2 separate regions of the Homo sapiens genome follow, and region 2 is linked to region 1. Evidence: fine-mapped expression QTL. A gene starts in region 1. The other region holds a variant in brackets. All regions are shown on one strand. Distances are between the middles of the regions. Region 1 holds the start of PRKRIP1 (PRKR interacting protein 1). Region 2 overlaps LOC100630923 (LOC100289561-PRKRIP1 readthrough).

Region 1 (2,910 bases):
ATCTCCCTCTCTTTTTTTAGAGACAGGTTCTTGCTCTGTTCCTCAGGCTGGAGTGCAGTGGTGCAATCAGAGCTCACTGCAGCCTTGAACTCCTGGGCTCAAGTGATCCTCCCGGTTCAGTCTCCAGAATAGTTAGGACTCTCAGGCGTACACCACCACACCAGGCAATTTTTTTATTTTTGTAAAGACAGGGACCCACTATGTTGCCCAGGCTGGTCTTGAACTCCTTCCTGGCCTCGGACCATCCTCCCGCCTGGCCTCCCAAAGCGCTGAAATTACAGGCAGGGGCCACAGCACCCAGCCCAAGTTACATCTCTTAAGACCAAAGAATTTTAATTGACTAATGAAGCAGGACTGCTTTGCTACTTGGACACAGAGCTGATTTTGTGTTCTTCCCTCTGTCGTGGCTTTTTTCATCCTATGTACTCTTGGGTATAACACAGTCCACACCTTCCCAGGGCTACGCTTTCCAGAGCAGAACTGAAAAACCTAAGCCATAGTTTCCAGCTAGAAACCGCCAACTTTAACACTACTAGATAAGAAGAGTCAAGCTTTTCTAGTTAAAGGTATAAAGGACGTTCCCGTTCAATTGTTTTTATGATTGAGGGGACCGAGGCCCAGAGGGGGTGTGAGCGGGAGAGGAGTGACCAGCTCCAAACGTCTCGGCCACTGTCTCTCTAACGATCAGTGTTGTTTAGAGTATACCCTTTTGCTAACCCACAAATTCTACCTTTTCAGTCTAACGCTTTTTGTTCACAGAAAGTTAAACCAGAAGGGGTCTTGGAGCACGGGAAGCCGCTCCACCGTGCTTTGATTCAAGCTGGGCTCTCACACAAGGACAGACGGGAAGTTCACTATCTCCGGGACAGCCTCCTTCTCCTCCTCCTCCCCAAAGACTGCTCTTGGAGGGTCGGATACTGAGTTTCTGAGTTTGGAGGCGGGGAAGGTGGACCTGCGGGAACCCTGAAGCGCTGCAGAGGAAGGGGGTGGGCCTCGGACGGGCCGTGGAGCCTGGGCCTCGTCTCACCGGGTTCTTCATGAGCCGCTCCAGCTTGAGCTTCTGCTCCTCCGCCGCATTCTTGGGGATGACGAGCGTCTGCGGCTCTTTCTTGGGCCTCGGTGGTCGCACCGAGGAGGCGGCTGGGCTAGCCATGGCAGCCTTCCAGTTTCACAAGCGAGCGGCGGCGTCGGCGCGCAAGTATGACGACACAGCCGCGCGCCGGCGACGCATACGCAGTCTCCGCAGAGGGGAACGGAGGCGGGGTTGCAAGGCGCAAGCAGCCTGCTGAATATTCATGAGCCTGAGGCTGGCGTGGGTTATTGTGTTCAAAGCTGCGGGGTTTCATTTCCTGTTCCTGAACAACAAATCAGTGCAGCTAGATGCTCACGTCCCTGAAGGGGAGGTGGCCCTCCGTGCCTGAGTAGCCTGGCCCTAGCCGACCTCTCCAGTCCCCGCGGGCGTCTTCGTGCCACCGAGCAGCCCCGCTGATGCTCTCGGCACCTCCTCCCCGTCGGCTCTCCTCGCCTCCCGGCTTTGTCCGGGCACTTCCTTGGATCTGGTGCCCCCTCCTCCATTTCTGACAATCTCCTGTTTACATAAGACAGCGCAAACATGTCACTGAGCTTCCTGAAGACTGGGACATTCCTCCTTTGTCCGCCTTGAATTACTCTATACCTGGCCCCCCGCAAATACACCTCTGCCAATGAATGACCGTCTCGTAGTGTGAGGCACAGTAATAAACCTAAGGAACCATGTCTGCTCATTCTGCTTGCGAGCAGGATTTCACAAAGGCCGTGACTCGGTGACTGAGCGCAGCCCTCTCCAATAACGCCCTGAACAATAAGCTGGGAAGAGCGAGAGAGAACACAGGTTTCCACCTCTCTTGCCTGAACACTGCATTTTTAGAAAAGACAAGTTCAATGATCCTAGCCCCTGCCTCTTCCTGTACATAATCTCTGACGGGATTAATGATTATGCTTCTATAACTTTTTTTTTTTTTTTAGAGACAGGGTCTCGCTTGGTTGCCCAGGCTGGAGTGCAGGGGCTCGATCATAGGTCACTGCTGCCTTGAACTCCCGGGTTCAGGCACTCCTCCCACCTCAGCCTCCTGAGTAGCTGAGACTACAGGCGCATGCCACCACACCCAGTTAATTTTTTATTTTTATTTTTTGCAGAGACAAGGTGTTGCTGTGATGCCCAGGCTGGTCTTGAACTCCTGGGCTCAAGCGATCCTCCTGCCTGGGCCTCCGAAAGTGCTGAAATTATAGGTGTTAAGTCACCATGCCCAGCCAAGCCTCTGTAATCTGTAACTAGATAATACCCTCACACACAGCCTTGATGAAATTTTGCTCTATTGTTAACTTCTGAGCACATTAGATATAACTTTTTTTTTTTTTTTTTGAGACAGAGTCTCACTCTGTCCCCCAGGCTAGAGCTCAGTGATGCAATCTCGGCTGACTGCAGCCTCTGCCTCCCAGGTTCAAGTGATCCTCCTGCTTCAGTCTCCTGAGTAGCTGGGAATACAGGTGCACGCCACCACGCCTGGCTAATTATTGTATTTTTAGTAGAGATGGAGTTTCACCATGTTGGCCAGGCTTGTCTCGAACTCCTGACATCAGGTGATCCACCCGCCTCAGCCTCCCAAAGTGCTGGGATTATAGGCATGAGCCACCACGCCCAGCTTGATATAACTTCTGAGCACATGCAGGGCACCACCAACTGTATATAAATGTTTTTATATAAACTGTATATAAATATAAATATATAAATGTGTGCTGAAACTCTGTTTTGGAGCAGTTTAACAAACTCTGTGAAAGACTTTCCCTGGTTACAGTCCTCAGTAAGATTGCAAAAAACCAACCTTAATTTTTTAAAAGCCTGATTTTTTGTTTAGTTGACATTGAGAAACA
Region 2 (2,910 bases), 28 kb after region 1:
AGGACTCAGAAACCAACTTAAAGGGATTCCGTCTGGCCAAAGATGGAACCACTTTAGCATTTTATTTTGAAATCATATAAATTTATATATATTTGCTATCAAATATATACATATATTTGCTATCAAATATATATGTATATATTTGCTATCAAATATATATTATATGTATATATTTGCTATCAAATATATATTATATGCATATATTTGCTATCAAATATATATTATATGTATATATTTGCTATCAAATATATATTATATGTATACATTTGCTATCATATATATCAAATATATCTCAAAAGGACTCAGAAACCAACTTAAAGGGATTCCGTCTGGCCAAAGATGGAACCACTTAATTTTCAAAAAGAATCACAACTTCTATGTACTGAAATATTTACTATCTGTTTAAACCCATGAGCTCATGATGGTTAACAAAACAAAATACCCTCCTGCTTAAAAGCCTACTCAATATTTTAGAAACTGTCTTTCCTGCATGAATTACATAAACAAACAGAGAATAGAAATTTATCTTTAGAAAAGTATTCTAGGCCAGCCGTGGTGGCTCATGCCTATAATCCCAACACTGGGAGGTCAAAGAAGAGGATCACTTGAGCCCAGTTCCAGACCAGCCTGGGCAACATAGAGAAACCTGTCTCTACTAAAAATTTAAAAATCCGCTGGGCATTGTGGCATATGACTATACTCCCAGCTACTTGGGAGGCTGAAGTGGGAGGATCACTTGAGCACAGGAGTTTGAGGCTGCAGTGAGCCATAAACGTGCCAGCCTGGGTGACAGAGTGAGACTCTGTCTCCAAAAAAAGAAAAGAAAGGTATTTTGGCTAGTAAATAAAGAAGAAATGGTAGAATTAGCAGATCACCATTTTGCCTCCCCTAATGAAGGCAAATCACAGCAATAGTAAATCACAGCAATAATCAACAGTCAATAGTTCTTAACTTCACAAAAACAAAGAAGGTAACACGTGCCTCCAGAAGTAGACAAATGCCACATATGGTATAGTTGTGTGAAAAGAACTGAACATAAACCTGATTAGACTTCCAGATCAAACTACCAATTTTACCAAGGCATAAAAGATATTTTTTAAAAATGTGCTAAAGGTGAAACAAGGGTAACACAATCCAAACTGAAGATAACCAACCCAGTTTCTTCAAAACAATAAGCACACAGGAGACATACTATGGGAACTATTAAAAGATTTAACCCAACTGCCACATGTATTAAGAAAGAGAGTATTATGGGTTATTCCTAGCCCCTTTTAAAAAGATTCCTTATTGGCCAGGTGTGGTGGCTTACACCTGTAATCCTACCACTTTGGGAGGCCAAAGTGAAAGGACTGCTTGAGGC[C/T]AGGAGTTTGAGACCAGCCTGAGCAATACAGTGAGAGTACATTTCTAGGCCGGGAGCAGTGGCGCATGCCTGTAATCCTAACACTTTGGGACGCCGAGGCGGGCAGACTGCCTGAGCTCAGGAGTTCGACATGCATGACACGGTGAAAGCCAGTCTCTACTAAAATACAAAAAAACTAGCGAGGTGTGGCAGCGTGCACCTGTAGTCCCAGCTACGCGGGAGGCTGAGGCAAGAGGATCGTGTGGGCCCGGGAGATTGAGGTTGCAGTGAGTTGTGATCATGTCTCTACACTCCAGCCTGGGCGACAGAGCAAGACCCTATCTCAAAAAAAGAAAAAAAGAAACAAAACAAAACAGACTTCACCATTTAAAGACAAACAAATACTTACAGATGAATCTTTTCAAAAGCCAAGAAAAGAGAGACTCCATGGAGAAAATATCAGTTTGGAAGTAACGGATGTCAAAGGCAGACAAAGGGTCCTGTGAGGAAGGGGCTAGGAAATGCCCGCTGGATTTGACTGCAATTAAATCACTGGTCACCTTTACTGACTGACTTAGCAAAGTGAAAAGGACAAAACGAAAACACTGAGAAGTGAAATGAGAAACAGAAATGAGGAAATCTTCACAAGAGAGTACTGTTTGTATTGTTTGCTGTGCAACCCGAACAAAAAGACGAACAAATATTTGACGGATGATCACGTCATTCATTCCCCCCATGATCTAGGACTCAACAGTAAAAACAGAATTGTTTACTTGGATCACGATATTTCCGTCCCTGGAAAAATTATGCACCAAGTTCTCCTTGGGCAGCAGGCCCTCTGCTTACATAAGCACCGAGAATAAGCCATAAGTTACAGTAATTTAATGGTTGTTGTTAGGAAAGCTATCCACAATTATATCAACTTGAATGAAGAAATTTTTCCAAGTCCTAGAAAATCTTTTAAATGCACAAGTAACAAAACTGGTTTCTCCTTATAATCAATGCAAACGATGTCATGGATGGTGATATGGTTTCGGTGTGTGTCGCCTCCCAAATCTCATGTTCAATTGTAATCCCCAATGTTCCCTCTTCCTCCTGCTCTGGTGATGGAAGATGCACCCGCTTTCCCTTCACCTTTCACCTGACTGTAAGTTTCCTGAGGCCTCCTCAGCCATGCTTCCTATGATAGAGCCTGCAGACGTGAGCCAATTAAACCTTTTTTCTTTATAAATTACCCAGTCTTGGTTATTTCTCTATAGCAGTGTGAGAATGGACTAATACAGATGGCATTTTCCTTTTGTGATGACTGCCAAGAATATCAGTCCTAGGTGCGGCTCAATTTCAACAGCCTTAAAATATACTACCCATACATACAAGCTTCACAAATCATTTTTGGTGCTGATCTGCCACACTAACTATATTTTACAGGATAATGTCTATTTCCACATTCCCATTTTAAAGTATGAATCCTGGCTGGGCTCGGTGGCTCATGCCTGTAATCCCAGCACTTTGGGAGGCTGAGGCGGGAGGATCACCTGAGGTCAGGAGTTTGAGACCAGCCTGGCCAACAT

What was found. PIP is the estimated chance that this variant, and not a neighbour inherited with it, causes the effect.
Region 2: its variant is the best candidate, but not a certain one, in a credible set for the expression of PRKRIP1 in monocytes after Pam3CSK4 (Quach 2016, PIP 0.68).

Annotation. Positions count from the first base shown.
Region 1 is chr7:102,394,655-102,397,564 of GRCh38, reverse strand. It overlaps PRKRIP1 (PRKR interacting protein 1), which reads right to left and starts at 1,202. Exons shown (of 6, transcript NM_024653.4): 1 at 1,028-1,202. The coding sequence starts at 1,153. The region is part of intron 4 of LOC100630923 (LOC100289561-PRKRIP1 readthrough); the gene reads right to left. RefSeq lists enhancers at 684-1,225, 1,007-1,246 and a silencer at 1,267-1,346.
Region 2 is chr7:102,366,356-102,369,265 of GRCh38, reverse strand. The region is part of intron 2 of LOC100630923 (LOC100289561-PRKRIP1 readthrough); the gene reads right to left. It also overlaps the pseudogene LOC100289561. Among named protein-coding and RNA genes, the nearest start is that of SPDYE6, 11 kb to the right of the region's middle. The variant C/T (reference allele first, on the strand shown) is at 1,361.